2 separate regions of the Homo sapiens genome follow, and region 1 is linked to region 2. Evidence: fine-mapped expression QTL. A gene starts in region 2. The other region holds a variant in brackets. All regions are shown on one strand. Distances are from middle to middle. Region 1 overlaps LOC124904915 (a long non-coding RNA gene). Region 2 holds the start of TNNC2 (troponin C2, fast skeletal type).

Region 1 (8,328 bases), 60 kb before region 2:
CAAAACAACTCCTTTCCTTCCTAGGCATGGTTAGTGCAGTCAGAATTCTTACACAAGAGCCAGGACCGCACCCTGTAGCCTTTCTGTGCAAACAACTTGACCTTACTGTTTTAGCCTGGCCCTCATGTCTGCGTGCAGCGGCTGCCGCTGCTTTAATACTTTTAGAGGCCCTAAAAATCACAAACTATGCTCAGCTCACTCTCTACACCTCTCATAACTTCCAGAATTATTTTCTTTCTCACACCTGACACATATACTTTCTGCTCCCCGGCTCCTTCAGCTGTACTCACTCTTTGTTAAGTCTCCCACAATTACCATTGTTCCTGGCCCGGACTCCAATCCGGCCTCCCACATTATTCCTGATACCACACATGACCCCCATGACTGTATCTCTCTGATCCACCTGACATTCACCCCATTTCCCCATATTTCCTTCTTTCCTGTTCCTCACCCAATCATGCTTGATTTATTGACTGGCGGTTCCACCAGGCCTAATCGCCACACACCAGCAAAGACAGGCTATGCTATAGTACAAGCCACTAGCCCACCTCTTAGTACCTCTCATTTCCTTTCCATCGTGGAAATCTATCCTCAAGGAAATAACTTCTCAGTGTTCCATCTGCTATTCTACTACTCCTCAGGGATTATTCAGGCCCCCTCCCTTCCCTACACATCAAGCTCAAGGATTTGCCCCCACCCAGGACTGGCAAATTGGCTTTACTCAACATTCCCCGAGTCAGATAACTAAAATACCTCTTAGTCTAGGTAGACACTTTCACTGGATAGGTACAGGCCTTTCCTACAGGGTCTGAGAAGGCCACCGCAGTCATTTCTTCCCTTCTGTCAGACATAATTCCTCAGTTTAGCTTTCCCACCTCTATGCAGTCTGATAACAGACGAGCCTTTATTAGTCAAATCAGCCAAGCAGTTTTTCAGGCTCTTAGTAGTCAGTGACAGACTAATGGTCTATTAAAAACACACCTCACCAAGCTCAGCCACTAACTTAAAAAGGACTGGACAATACTTTTACCACTTTCGCTTCTCAGAATTCAGGCCTGTCCTCGGAATGCTACAAGGTACAGCCCATTTAAGCTCCTGTATAGACGCTCCTTTTTATTAGGCCCCAGTCTCATTCCAGATACCAGACCAACTCAGACTGTGCCCCAAAACACTTGTCATCCCTACTATCTTCTGTCTAGTCATACTCCTATTCACTGCTCTCAACTACTCATACATGCCCTGCTCTTGTTTACACTGCCAGTTTACACTGTTTCTCCAAACCATCACAGCTGATATCTCCTGGTACTATCCCCAATTAGATGTCCTAGGTCCTCCCAATTCTTAGTCCTTTAATACCTGTTTTTGTCCTTCTCTAATTCCGTTTATTTTTTAATTCATACAAAACTGTATCCAGGCCATCACTAATAATTCTAAATGACAAATGTTTCTTCTAACAACCCCACAATATCACCCCTTACCACAAAATCTTCCTTCAGCTTAATCTCTCCTACTCTAGGTTCCCACGCCGCCCCTAATCCTGCTCGAAGCAGCCCTGAGAAACATCGCCCATTCTCTCTCCATACCACCCCCAAAACTTTTCGCCGTCCCAACACTTTACCACTATTTCATTTTATTTTTCTTATTAATATAAGAAGACAGGAATGTCAGGCCTCTGAGCCCAAGCTAAGCCATCATACCCCCTGTGACCTTCACATACACATCCAGATGGCCGGTTCCTGCCTTAACTGATGACATTCCACCACGAAAGAAGTGAAAATGGCCTGTTCCTGCCTTAATTGATGACATTGTCTTGTGAAATTCCTTTTCCTGGCTCATCCTGTCTCAAAAAGCTCCCCTACTGAGCACCTTGTGACCCCCACTCTGCCCTCCAGAGAACAACTCCCCTTTGACTGTAATTTTCCTTTATCTACCCAAATCCTATAAAATGGCCCCACCCTGATCTCCCTTCGCTGACTCTCTTTTCAGACTCAGCCCGCCTGCACCCAGGTGAAATAAACAGCCACGTTGCTCACACAAAGCCTGTTTGGTGGTCTCTTCACATGGACGCGCATGAAAAGAAGAATACTTTAAAAAAAAAAAAAAAAGCAGCATCAGCACCACCTGGAAGCTTGTTATTTATACAGAATCTCAGACCCACCTGAAACCTACTGCATTGGAATTTGCATTTTAACAACTCTGGTGATTTGTTTTCTCATTTCACAAGTTGTAGTCTGTGAAAAATCAGGAGCTATCAGGAAAGGAGATCTACTCCCCTGGCTACTGCGAATCAAGGTTTCTTCTGCATCTACGACTGCTACCCATAAAATGTGAAATACCCTTCAGGAATCTATACGGCTCTAAAGACTCATAGTGAGATGTTAAGTATCCCTTTCTCCTTCCTAATAGCAGCCTATTTCCTTTCAAGGAATTCTCTTCCCCTGTTCTATGTCTTGTTGTGAGGGTTAATTTCAGGTGCCTGCTAACCCAAACAAGCCAGAGAAGCAATTCTTTTCTCTAGGTTCTCAACCAGGGGTGATTTTGCCCCCCAGGGGACATTTTGGCAACATCTGGAAACATATTTGTTTGTGACAAATGACAGGGAGAGATTCTGGCATCTAGTGAAAAGCAGCCGGAGCTGCTGCTAAACATCATATAGTACCCAGGATGGCCCCTCACAGCAAATAATTATCCAGCCCAAAATATTAATAGGACCAAGGCTGCGAAACCCTGAATGAGTAATTACATATATTCTCCCTCTTTCAGGAAGTCTCAATCTTGAGAGAAGGGGGAAAGAGAAATAGAACATCGCTGTCACAGCAGCGTCACTGTGACCCAACTCTTCCTGCCTAGATGACCTGCTTCCTCCCTCTTGACCCTCCAGAGTGCTGTCAATTCCCTACCATGGAGCCCTAGCTTTGCATAAATCATACGAGCCCCAATTTCCTTCCAGTTCACTGTCATTTGCCCAAGTCAGCCAGTATCTTTCTGTTGATGGTAACCAAGAACCCTTACGCCCAACCATCCAATTAGAGGAGGGCTCCATTCCAGGGCAGGGCAGGCTTACCCAGCTGCTAGGCTAAGCACACACTTCAAGCATCAGCAAGTAACTGACAAGTTCAGCTTGAATGAACTTAACCAGAATTTGCAGTCAAGAAAACTAGAAAGAAACTGTTTTAATTTCAGTATAAGTGTTTCATTTTGCATCAAGTGATTTAAACAGTTCATTATTTGGGACCCTGATGTTCTGGGCCATCAGGTGGGGCAGGTTTGCTCTGGTTTTGAGTTTCAGTGCTAAGAAGGAAGAGGAAAACGAGAGAGAAGAGATTGAGTTGTTTATATTATCTGGCCTCAGGTGAGAGAGTACTGGAATGAGAAGCCTATGTTTAAAGGAAAAAAATATTAAAACTGGGAAAGTATTGAACATGGAAAGATGTAACCT[A/G]TACAATGAAGTACAGCACAATGGAAGAACCTAAAAATTAAAACCAAGAATACATATATATATTTCTTGATATATATATCAAGAAATAGCAATCTATCTGCAAGCCGAAAAGTGTTGCAGAAGGAATGGAGGCTTTGTCATCGAATACACCTGCTGGTTTAACCAAACTAAGATTGAAAGTAAAAACCTTAGCCTGGGAAACATAGCGAGACCCCATCTCTACAAAAACTGAAAAAAATAGCCAGGTGTGGTGGTGCATGCCTGTGGTCCCAGCTACTTCGGAGGCTGAGGTAGAAGGATTGCTTGAGCCCAGGAAGTCGAGGCAGCAGTGGGCCGTGTTTGAGCCACTGCACTCCAGCCTGGGTGACAGAGTAAGACCCTGTCTCAGAAAAAAAAAAAGAAAGAATGTAAAAGCGTTTGAAGCCATTTGGCAAAGATCATGGAAAACAGGGCAAGCAATAGCTACAGAGTTCCAGAGCCATGTTAAATTAATAAATAAGTAAATATTTAAACATTGAATACCTTAACAATTAAAAATCATATCTATCTATTATATTGTTGAATGACAAAAGCCTATTACAGGATGATTCTACCTATATCGACATTTGCATATATGCATAAAGCAAGTCTGGAAGGACCTTCACAAGCATGTTAACAATGGTCACCTATGGGTAGGGAGATCTTCTTTGAATTTTTTTTTTTTTTTTTTTGGTGCATTAGCGATCTTGATGGTTTCAAATGTCATCACCAGGGAATGATAAACGCTGGGGCCTACTTAGGGTGGAGGGCAATAGGAGAGTGAAGATTGAAAAACTACCTATCTGATATTATGCTGATTACCTGGGTGACAAAATTTTCTGTACACCAAATCCCCAAGACACACAATTAGTGCGTGTAACAAACCTGCATATGAATCCCTTTAAAGTAAAATACAAGTTGAAAGGAAAAAAATAAAACCTCTTCAATCATCTTTCAGATAGCAATTTTTTTCATTGCTTCTTCAGTGTACATAAATATTCTTTTACATCATTCACACTTCTTTGAACTTTTCTGTACTGTTTAAATATCGCAATAATGTTTATGCATCCTATTTTAAAAACAACAACAACAAATTAAAAAATAAAAAGGAGAAGGAGGAAGGTGAGGAGGAGAAAAAGAATAACAAAAAAGACTTGTGATCCTAAGCATATAGACAGCTCAGAAATTGCAGGAAAGCTGAAAAAGAAAAACAAGAGAAAGGTAAAGGAAGAATGATCATTAATAATATTACTAAATTGGGCCAGGCACAGTGGCTCACGCCTGTAATCCCAGCACTTTGGGAGGCCGAGGCTGGTGGATCATTTAAGGTCAGGCGTTCGAGACCAGCCTGGCCAACATGGTGAAACCCTGTCTCTACTAAAAATACAAAAATTAGCTGGGCGTGGTGGCTAATGGTGGGTGTAATCCCAGCTACTTGTGAGGCCAAGGCTGGAGAATTGCTTGAACCCAGGGAGCAGAGGTTGCAATGAGCCAAGAGCACACCATTGCACTCCAGCCTGGGCGACAAGTCTCTGTCTCAAAAAAAAAAAAAAAAATTACTGAATTGGGCTACAGATTCTTAGAGCTGCTGATGGGACTTTCATGAACTTCTAATTCAGAGATCCCCAAACCAGACCACACATTAGAATTCCCTGAGGGCTTTTTTTAAATATTGCTCTGAATAAACACATAAACAAGCAGTTCCCTTGGCCCAACCCATCTTTGACCTACTGAATCAAAATATCTGGAATGGGATTGGGGAATCTGCACATTGACCAGCCCGTGCAAGGATCTAAAACCAGCCCCTGGCAACCACTAATGTACTTCTGTCTCTACGAATTTGCCTATTCTAGATGTTCCATATAAATGGAATTATATGGCCTTTTGTGACTGGCTTCTGTCACTTAGCATGTTTTCAAGGTCCATTCATGTTATAGAATGTATTGGTACTTCATTCCTTTTTATGGCTGAATTAATATTTCATTGTATTGATATACCACATTTTGTCTCTCCATTCACCAGTTGATAGATATTTGAGTTGCTTCCACCTGTTGGCTATTGTCCACCTGTTTCTATTTCTATGAACATTTGTTCACAAGTTTTTGCTTGAACATCTAGGGGTTTTGTTTGTTTGGTTTTGGTTTGGGTTTTTTGTTTTTTGTTTTTTGTTTTTTCAGAGATAGGGTCTGTCACCTAGGCAGGAGTGCAGTGGCACCTTCTTAGCTCACTGCAGCCTTGTATTCCTGGGCTCAACTAATCCTCCCACCTCAGCCTCTTGAGTAGCTAGAACTACAGTTATGATGCCACCACACCCTGGTTATTTTTTTAATTTTTCTGTAGAGACAAGGGTCTCACTATGTTGCCCAGGCTGGTGTTAAACTCATGTTCTCAAGCGATCCTTCCACCCCAGCTTCCCAAAGTACTGGGGTTACAGGTGTGAGCCATCACACTTGGCCATTGGATACCTGTTTTTAGTTCTTTTGGGTATATACCTAAGAGTGAAATTGCTGGGTCATATGGTAATTCCACATTTAACTTATTGAGAAACCATCAAACTTTTTAGGGTTTTTTTTTTTTTGAGACGGGGTCTTGCTCTGTTGCCCAGGCCAGAGTGCAGTGGCACAATCATAGCCCCCTGCAGCCTCAATCTCCTGAGCTCCAGTGATCCTCCCACCTCAGCCTCCCAAGTAGCTGGGACTATAAGCACATGTCACTACACCTGACTGACTTTTTTTTTTTTTTTTTAAGTAGAGACAAGATTTTGCTATGTTGCTCAGGCTGGTCTTGAACTCCTGAGCTCAAGCAGTCCTCCCACCTCAGTCTCCCAAAGTGCTGAGATTACAGGCATGAGCCACTGTGCCCAGACCACTGTTTAGTTTTTTAATGTGGCTACTAAAAAACTTGAAATTACATACATGGCTTGCATTATGTTTCTGTGAAAGAGTGCTGCTCTGGATGCTTCTTTCTGCCCAAGTATTCTACTGGAACTTACCTCTCATTTACCTTTGCCCTCACCTGCTTCCAAACAAGACTCAAGGAGGAACTTAATACTATAAAACAGCCAGGTGCAGTGGCTCACGCCTGTAACCCCAGCACTTTGAGAGGCCAAGGCAGGTGGATCATTTGAGGCCAGGAGTTCGAGACCAGCCTGGCCAACTTGGTGAAACCCTGTCTCTACAAAAAATACAAAAATTAGCTGGGCATGGTGGTGCGCATCTGTAGTCCCAGCTACTTAGGGAGCTGAAGCAGGAGGATCACTTGAACCTGGGAGGTCGAGGCTGCAGTGAGCATGATTGCACCACTGCACTCCAGCTTGGGAGACAGAGTGAGACCCTGTCACAAAAAACAACAACAGAAAATAAAATACTACAAAACAAGTTACATGAAAATGAAAGTCTTTAAACCAAGAGTGAAAAAAGGTAGGGGATCCAGGCGCAGTGGCTCACACCTGTAATCCCAACACTTTGGGAGGCCAAGGCATGCAGATCATGAGATCAAGAGATCAAGACCATCCTGGCCAACATGGTGAAACCCCATTTCTACTAAAACTACAAAAGTTAGCTGGGTGTGGTGGTGGGCGCCTGTAGTCTCACCTACTCAGGAGGCTGAGGCAGGAGAATCGCTTGAACCTGGAAGGTGGAGGTTGCAGTGAGCCAAGATTGCACCACTGCACTCCAGCCTGGTGACAGAGCCAGACTCTGTCTCAAAAAAAAAAAAAAAAAAGGTGGGGGAGGACAAGTAATAAAAGAGGGTGGCAAGAAGGATCGATTTTGTCAGAGAAACTGAATAACAACAGCTAACATTTATTGAGTGTGTGCTTTGTGCCAGGCTCTGCTAAGTGCTTTCTTTATAATCTTTTTTTTTTTAGACGGAGTCTCCCTCTGTGGCCTAGGCTGGAGTGCAGTGGCACGATCTCAGCTCACTGCAGCCTCCAAATCCTGGGTTCAAGCAAGTCTCCTGCTTCAGCCTCCCGAGTAGCTGGGACTACAGGCGTCCACCACCATGCCCAGCTAATTTTTGTATTTTTAGTAGAGACGAGGTTTCACCATGTTGGCCAGGGTGGTCTCAAACTCCTGGCCTCAGGTGGTCGACCCACCTCGGCCTCCCAAAGTGCTGGGATTACAGGTGTGAGCCACTGCACCTGGCCAGTGCTTTCTTTATAATGGACTCTTCACACCAATTCTATGAGGTAGGCAGTGTGGTAATGTTATTATACACACAAAGCTGATAAGCAGCACAAGATTATAGATTCAGACCCAGGCCTTACTCCGAAACCTGAGCTCTTGGCACCCTGGTAGCCAATGCGAAGATGGAAACATCAGCTCTAGAAAGCCCCTACCACAGAGTCTGGAAAGACAGACGATGCCCAGTAAGTTATTTCCCTGCCCATTCTCACACTAACTCAGAGGGAGAAACTTTTTCTTGATCTTGAGCTCCACAGGGAATTTGACCCTGTGGCTTTGTACAAGAAACACTAATACGACATAGTGGGTAATGTCCCCCATATCAATGTTACCAGAAATGAAGCAGCATGCCACATCATATGAAAACAGAGGGCATAATGTTAGGTCTTAATTTATTAAGTGCAGTTCAGTCGGGATCCAGGAGCTTAGACAGCTGATAGCAAGCTTTCACTTTATCTTTTAGAATGCCCTTTTGCCCTTTTGAGTCTCTTGCCTGGAAATGGTCTATGACAGACCTCTGCTGCCCTCTGGTGGGCAGAGCATGAAGCACCCAGCAAAGAATTCTTTCCAGTCACATGGCCTCTTCTTTGTTTATATTGCTGAATCTGTGGGAAGCTGGGCTTCTCCACACAATCCCTTGAGGAGAAGGCTTAACTTGTATATGAAAGGAAAGACACCTCTCCCAAC
Region 2 (8,328 bases):
CACCACTGCCTGTCCGCCAAGCTGTGCACGCCCAGCGCCAGCTGTCAGGAGCCGGCTGCAAACCTGCAGAGCGAGTCAGCGCCATCGAGCACTCGCAGCCGCCGCCTCGGGCTCCAGGGCCCAGCTCCCTTCCACATCCCGCCGCTCAGACAGCCTCTCCCGGGGATCCCCAAGGGTGCTCCGGGTGGTGCCAGCCGGGATGGCGCCCTGGACCACAGCCCTTGCGACCTGCTGTCCTCGGCTCTCCCCTCATTCAGGCCACGAGTTTTGGAACATTTGCTTTTATTCCTTCCAGACAAAGACCCACAAGGGGTCGCGCCTCCCTGGTGGGGACCCGGCAGGGCGGAGTCTCCCACACCCTAGGGACACGCGATCTTGGTAGAGGCGACTGTCCACTCCTTACTGCACGCCCTCCATCATCTTCAGGAACTCTGAGGGAAAGGAGAGGGAGAGGGTCAGGGGTCCCACTGGGGACGCAGAGGCCAGGCCAGGGCTCCAGCCACACAGAGGGGATGACTTTTTGTTTTTGTTTTTGTTGAGACAGAGTCTCACTCTGTTGCCAAGGTCGCCAAGGTCTGTCACCCAGGCTAGAGTGCAGTGGCACAATCATAACTCATTGCAGCCTTGATCTCCTAGGCTCAAGCGATCCTCTTACCTCAGCCCCCGGAGCAACTGGGACCACAGGTGTGCCACCACACCTGCCTTTTTATTTTATTTTATTTTTTGTAAAGACAGGGTCTCACTATGTTGCCCAGGCTGGTCTCGAACTCTTGGCCTCAAGCAATCCTCCCACCTCATCCTCCCAAAGTTCTAGGATTTTACAGTCCTGAGCCACCACGCCCCCCTGCCTGGTCATTAATTGATAAACTGCACAGAGTCGTGGAGCGCTTCTATACCTGCCCCCAGGAGACTATGGGGAACTTGGTGAAGTTACGCCCAGCCCAGCCCACAAGGCCAAGGACACTGCACCGGAGCCAGGCACCAGTGCCCGCCGTCCTCTGGGGCTCCCACCCGCTCTTCCCAAGCTCCCGTTGGCCCTCACCGTCGAAGTCAATGCGGCCGTCGTTGTTCTTGTCGCCGTCTTTCATCAGAGATTCGATCTCCTCGTCCGTCACGTGCTCCCCGGAGGCCCTGAAAATCTCAGCCAGCTCCTCCGGGTCGATGTAGCCGTCTGCATTCCTTCAGGTCCGAGGGACAGGGCAGGGCTCAGGGCCGGGGCGAGCTGCCCTGGCCACCACACTCGACGCCCCGCTTCCGCACTCCCAACACGGGGAAGCTTCCAGCGCTGCCGGCCGGGTTCTGACTGCTAAGCCCCTCCCTCGGCTCCCGGGCCCCCAGCGCACCTGTCGAAGATGCGGAAGCACTCGGCCAGCTCCTCCTCGCTCTTCCCTTTCGCGTCCTCTTTCATCTGGCGCACCATCATGACCAAGAACTCCTCGAAGTCGATGGTGCCGCTGCCTGCGGGCAGCAGGTGGCAGACTGAGCCTGAGCCCAGCCGCTGCCGCCTCTCCCCACCATCCCCTGCCTCCGAGGGACACCCGCTCACCGTCCTCATCCACCTCCTCGATGATGGCGTCCAGCTCCTCCTTGGTGGGTGTCTGGCCCAGCATCCTCATCACCGTGCCCAACTCCTTGACGCTGATGTCCCCACCACCATCAGCATCAAACATGTCAAAGGCAGCCTTGAACTCTGCGAGGGAGGGCAGAGGGCAGAGGTGAGGCCTGCTGGACTGTCAGCCTCACACCTACCCCCCCCCAACCCCCACCCTGCCTAGAGGCCAACATGTCCCCAGCATACATCCACCCAGCCCCCAGCCTGCCGCGCCTCACTCACCAGCGATCATCTCTTCGCTGAGGTAGGACCTGGCCTCAGCCTGCTGGTCCGTCTGCAGGAGACACAGAGAAAGTCTGAGCTGAAGAGGCAGCCCCAGAGCAGTTCCTCACCTCAAAGCCATTCTTCCCAACCCCCACTCTGTCAGCGCCCTTGGTTCTCCAGAAGAACAACTTCAAACTTGTCACATAATTGTGTGCCCGCACAGCACCCAATCACAGTTTTGTTTTGTCTCGTTCTGTCACACATGCTGGAGTGCAGTAGTGTGATCATAGCTCACTGCAGCCTCAACCTCCTGGGCTCAAGCAATCGTCCCACTTCAGCCTCCTGAGTAGCTGGGACTATAGCATACACCACGCCTAATTTTTAAAATTTTTTGTAGAGATGGGGTCCCACTATATTACCCAGGCTGGTTTTGAACTCCTGGGTTCAAGTGATCCTGCCACCTCGGCCTCCCAAAGTGCTAGGATTACAGGCTTGAGCCACTGTGCCCAGCTTCTGACCCCAGTTTTTGTTTTTGCTTTTTGTTTTTGTGACAGTCTCGCCCTGTCGCCCAGGCTGGAGTGCAATGGCGTGATCTCGGCTCACTGCAACCTCCACCTCCTGGGTTCAAGCGATTCTCCTCCCTCAGCCTCTCGAGTAGCTGGGATTACAGGCATGCGCCAACACGCCCAGCTAATTTTTGTATTTTTAGTAGAGACGAGGTTTTACCATGTTGGCCAGGCTGGTCTTGAACTCCTCACATCAGGTGATCCGCCCACCTCGGCTTCCCAAAGTGCTGGGATTACAGGCGTGAGCCACCATGCCCGGCCTGACCCCAGTTTTTTTTGTTTGTTTGTTTTGTTTTGTTTTGAGACGGAGTTTTGCTCTTGTTGCCTAGGCTGCAGTGTAATGGCACGATCTCAGCTCGCCACAACCGCAACCCCCACCTCCGGGGTTCAAGCGATTCTTCTCCCTCAGCCTCCCGAGTAGCTGGGATTACAGGCATGCACCACAACGCCCGGCTAATTTTGTATTTTTAGTAGAGATGAGGTTTCTCCATGTTGGTCAGGCTGGTCTCGAACCCCCTACCTTAGGCGATCTGCCTGCCTCAGCTTCCCAAAGTGATGGGATTACAGGCGTGAGCCACCGCGCGCAGCCTGTGACCCCAGTTTTGAGCAAAAGAGAGGAGACAACAAGTTAAGCCCAAGGCCTTCTCACTTGTCAATTGAAGGCCAAGTCGGGAACCCCCCCCACCCCCCAGTGACCTTAGGCACGTCAATTAGCGTGCCTTCATCTTTTCTCTGTAGCTTTTCAGGGATGAGATATCAGGGGTGTGAAAGGGCTTTGTAAAGGGCTAGCACCATTCCAGCACTATTTTCCAGTTTTCTGCAGCTCCTAATGGTGCCCGGTACTTTAATAGTTGCTCAATAAAATGTTTGTTCTCAAATAAATAATAATGCAACACAAAGTTATTGAGTACTTGCTGCATGTCAGGCCACAGATCAGGCACTGGAACCACAAAGAAGAGATAAAAGACACATCATCCCGCCCCTCAGAGAACTGGCAGAGTCGGAGGCTGTCAGCTTCCTTCTTAGGATTCAGTCATTGGAGAAAAGGCCCCTCATGGGGGGCCGAATGTGATGGAGGCCTTGACATGAAAGTGAGATTTCTGCAGGGGTTTCCACGTCATATCCAAGCCAGGCCATCTGGGTCAGAGGCTTTGGATTGAGGCTGGCAGTGAGGACAGGGTGAGGCTTCCAAGGAGCTCTTCAGCCAGCTGGCCACCAGTGCTCCTCCTTCTCCCCCTCCTTCCTCTCCTCCTCTTTCCCTATGCCAGGAGGGCAGGCTATTTTTAGTCAGGCATGGGCAACAGCAGCTGGCCTCTGGGATCTAGTTACTCCTTGAAGTGAAGTGGGGAGGGGGATCTCAGACCAAAACAACAGCTCCAAATCAGAAGCCCTCTCTAGGAGAGCGGAGTCTCTCTAACTCTGGTCTGTCATCTTCTGCCCCTTCCCATCATCCTCAGGGCTCCCAGAGCCCTGCATCTGAGCAGGCCCCACGCCCTGCCGGCCTCCCGTCTTCTGGAGGAGGCTTTCTTCTCTCCATGATGATAGGAGGGTTTGGCCAGGCTTCTGGCTCACCCCTGCCACTGGCCTGCTGGGTGACTCACTCTGACCCCTCAGAGTCCCCACTGTGTGAAGGAAACAAGCTAAGAGCTCTTCACAGGTCTATGAATGACACTGCTGGAAGTTTCCAGAAGTGAGTAGGCAGTCAGCAAGCCTTAAGGATCAATCTCTGGAATATCCCAGCCCTCCCCTTTCAAGAAAAGTCAAAGGCCTTCCTCCAAGACACCTGGGTTCCAGGAACCTCCATGCTCCAACCTCAAACATCCAAGTTACTGCCCCACAGAGCACCCAGGCCTGGCCTGAAAGGGGTCCAGAGTGCTCCCGTGAGTAAAGGCACAAAGTCCCCTCTTGTCCTTACCATGGTTGCTGGTGACCGGGACTCCTCTGTTGCAGGTCGCCTCCTTTGCACTCCACCACCCAAAGATGACCTGGCCTGCTCTAGCCCCCGGGATTTGTAGGGGCACCCTCCCCTCCCACCTCCCTGCTCCCCAGCACTGGAGACCCTGCCCAATCAGATCCTGGGGTCAGCGAGTCCCACCCCTCCCACAGTCTGAACCCATTACCTAATTTAGCCAAGGGCCCTTGCAGAGAAATTTAAGCCTCCAAGCAGGTGGCAGGCCTTGACGTCCTAGATTCTTGTGAGGAAGGCCTGCCCTGTTCCACTGCCTTGGAGTCCCCCCGACCGAGGAAGCACACTGGCTCCAAGATGGTAAGGATGATCAGAGTAGTAAAGGGTGAGGCAGCATGGTAAAATGGGGAGAGTACAAGCCTTGAAGTCCAAAACCCAAGATCCAAGGCCAGCCTCTGCGAGTTGTGTGACCTTGGGCCGGTAGCAGTGCCTCTCTGAGCCATTTCTTCATCTGTGGGATTGGACCTGTCTGTGGGGTCTCCCTCACAGAGAGACCATGGTAAATGGGAACCCGGGTATAAGTCACCTAGCTTGTGCTGGGTACACAGCGTTGGTGCTTGGCAAGAGGAATGTCCCGTCTTTGAACCATGGTAAGGGGCAGGGGATAGGAGGAGAAAGTGACAGGTAGGCCACTGTTTACTGAACCCCATGACGTGCCACACACTGTGCTAAGCATTTTAACATGATCTCATCTAGTGCTCCTCCTATGAGGTAGCAACGATTATCCCCACTTGACTGCAGAGCTTTGTAAATTATAAAGGTCTATACTCACTCTGTCACCAAGGCTGATGTGCAGTGGTGCTATTATAGCTCACTGCAGCCTCTATCTCCTGGGCTCAAGTGATCCTCCCACTTCAGCCTCCCGAGTAGCTGGGACTAGAGGTGCACCACCACCCCTGGCTTTTTTTTTTTTTGTATTTTTATAGAGATGGGGTTTCACCATGTTGCCCAGGCTGGTCTCGAACTCCTAGGCTCAGGGGATCCTTCCACCTTGGTTTCCCAAAGTGCTAGAATTACAGTCATGAGGCACCATGCCCACCCATGTTGATGATTCTTATTATTAATCCTGACTGGAGGGAAGTTGGGACAGACAGTCCTTGGGGCACCTGTCCAGATGGAAAAATGTATGGAGGGATGGAGGAGAGGAGGATGTGCATTTGGAGGAGAAATAATCATTGAAAGCAAAGATCCTTCTCTGAAAGTTACCTTCTCCAGGGAAAGGGTGTTTGGATTCACTTTTTTTGAAGTAAGGAGTAGGCAGGGGAAGGTTCTTTAAGTGGTAAAAGGACAGCTGGCCCCTTCCTAGAGCTCAGTGAAGAAATCTGGTCATCTGGGGAGTAAAGGGGTGGGCAGACCAAGTCCAGAGGGAGCCCAACCTGAGAATCCACAAGGTGCAGGCTGGGCACTGGGGAGTAGGCAAGGCTTGTAGACAGTGGCTACGTGGACAGAAAGAGCACCAAGACAACCGATAGCAGGCTCTGGGGCCAGGAAAGGGGGGCTGGACACCAAGGAATGCAGATGGACAGTGGCAACTGGGCTGCCCCCTTCCCCTATATATAGACATTCCCAAGGAAAGCTCAGCAGGGCTGGGCCAAGCTAAATAAGGCCTCCCCCAGGCAGGCAGGGTGCCAAAGGGTGAGGGAGACCCATGGGATTCCAATTTAGTTTTTATTGTTTTTTGGTTTTTTGGGGTTTTGTTTTTGAGACAGACTCTCACTCTGTCACCCAGGCTGGAATGCAGTGGCACAATCTCGGCTCACTGCACCCTCCGCCTCCTAGGTTCAAGTGATTCTCATGCCTCAGCCTTCTGAGTAGCTAGGATTACAGGCACATACCACTACGCCCAGCTAATTTTTGTTTTTGGTTTTTTTTTTTTTTTTTTTTTGAGACAGAGTTTTGCTCTTGTTGCCCAGGCTGGAGTACAATGGTGCAATCTCGGCTCACCACAACCTCCGCCTCTTGGGTTCAAGCAATTCTCCTGCCTCAGCCTCCCGAGTAGCCGGAATTACAGGCATGAGCCACCATGCCCGGCTAATTTTGTATTTTTAGTAGAGACAGGGTTTCTCCATGTTGGTCAAGCTGGTCTCAAACTCCCAACCTCAGGTGATCCGCCCACCTCAGCCTCCCAAAGCACTGGGATTACAGGTGTGAGCTACCACACCCGGCAAATTTTTTACTTTTTGTAGAGACAAGGTTTCATCGACCGGGCACGGTGGCTCAGGCCTGTAATCCCACCACTTTGGGAGGCTGAGATGGGCGGATCACGAGGTCAGGAGATCGAGACCATCCTGGCTAACACAGTGAAACCCCATCTCTACTAAAAATACAAAAAAATTAGCCGGGCATGGTGGTGGGCGCCTGTAGTCCCAGCTACTTGGGAGGCTGAGGCTGAGGCAGGAGAATGGTGTGAACCTGGGAGGCAGAGCTTGCAGTGAGCCGAGATCACACCACTGCACTCCAGCCTGGGCAACAGAGCAAGACCCCGTCTCAAAAAAAAAAAAAGTTTCATCATGTTGGCCAGGCTGGTCTCAAACTCCTGACCTCAAGTGATCCGCCTGCCTCAGCCTCCTAAAGTGCTAGGATTACAGGCATGAGCCCCTGAGCCCAGCCTTTGTTCTTTTGTTTATTCAAGGGATTAGGTAAGGCCCAAATTGCTTAATGTAGCCAAGCAAGGTCCCATTGGCCCTTCTAATCTCACTCCTTCCCTCCACATCATGTTGCTGTCTGCTCTGATCAGACTTTAAAATACTGCTCTAGGCTGGGCACGGTGGCTCATGCCTGTAATCCCAGCATTTTGGGAGGTGCAGGCTGGCAGATCACGAGGTCAGGAGTTCGAGACCATCCTGGCCAGCATGGTGAAACCCTGTCTCTACTAAAAATACAAAAAATTGCTGCTGGGTGTGGTGGTGGGCGCCTGTAGTCCCAGCTACTTGGGAAGCTGAGGCAGAAGAATCACTTGAACCTGGCAGGCGAAGGTTGCACTGAGCCAAGATCATGCCACTGCTCTCCAGCCTGGGCGACAAAAGGAGACTGCATCTCAAAAAAAAAAAAAAAAAAAAAAAGACTACTCTAAACACCACCTTCTATGAACCTTCAAGCCTTTGCACATGCTGTTTTTTTCTGCCAGAAACTCCCATCTTTCCTCTCTTCATCTGTCTACTTCCCTATCATCTTTCTAAGCTCTAACATCACTTCCTCGGGGATCCTTCCCCCACTGTGTCCAGACCAGGGAGTCCAAGGTGGTCTCTAGTAGTTTCCTCAATCATAGCACTGAGCATACCTTATGCTCACAACCCATTCTATGTTCTACAGATCATCACATTTCCCAGTGCTCAGCACTTGCTATGTAGCAGGTGTTCAACAGATATTATATTCTACATAAGAATAACTGAACTGGATGGTATTTAGTTCAATATAAGGGGGAACTTCCTAATAGTCATAGTTGAACAATAATGGGAACAGGTGGCCTCAGGAGGTAATGAGCTCCGTATCACTGAGTATACCCAAACAGGAGCTAGATGACCATTTCTCAGGGAGGCTGTAGGGAGATATCCATACAGAATTTAAGAATGGGGGCAGTGGCTCACACTTTTAATCCTAGCACATTGGGAAGCTGAGGCAGGTGGATCTCTTGAGCCCAGGAGTTCAATACCAGCCTGGGCAACATGGCGAGACGCTGTCTCCAATTAAAAAATTAAAATAAAACAAAGAATGGTGGGTGGTAGCTCATACTTGTAATCCCAGCACATTGGGAGGCAGAGGTAGGAGGATCTCTTCAGGCCAAGAGTTCAAGATCAGCCTGGGCAACATGCAACCCCACCTTTACAAAAAATAAAATACTAGCCAGGCATGGTGGGCACATATCTGTAGTCCCAGATACTTGGGAGGCTGAGGTGGGAGAATCACTTGAGCCCAGGAGTTTGAGGCTGCAGTGAGCTATGATCGCACCCCTGCACTCCAGCCTCACAACAGAGTGAGAC

What was found. PIP is the estimated chance that this variant, and not a neighbour inherited with it, causes the effect.
Region 1: its variant is fine-mapped to the expression of TNNC2 in whole blood (INTERVAL, PIP 0.92).

What each region holds. Positions count from the first base shown.
Region 1 is chr20:45,763,172-45,771,499 of GRCh38, forward strand. LOC124904915 (a long non-coding RNA gene) reads left to right here. Exons shown (of 2, transcript XR_007067610.1): 2 at 1,987-4,409. Among named protein-coding and RNA genes, the nearest start is that of WFDC3, 25 kb to the right of the region's middle. RefSeq lists enhancers at 1-628, 1,562-2,494, 2,495-3,426, 7,896-8,328. The variant A/G (reference allele first, on the strand shown) is at 3,440.
Region 2 is chr20:45,822,949-45,831,276 of GRCh38, forward strand. TNNC2 (troponin C2, fast skeletal type) reads right to left here and starts at 4,364. Exons shown (of 6, transcript NM_003279.3): 1 at 4,298-4,364; 2 at 1,835-1,886; 3 at 1,547-1,690; 4 at 1,344-1,458; 5 at 1,043-1,179; 6 at 266-431. The coding sequence starts at 4,300. The coding sequence ends at 400.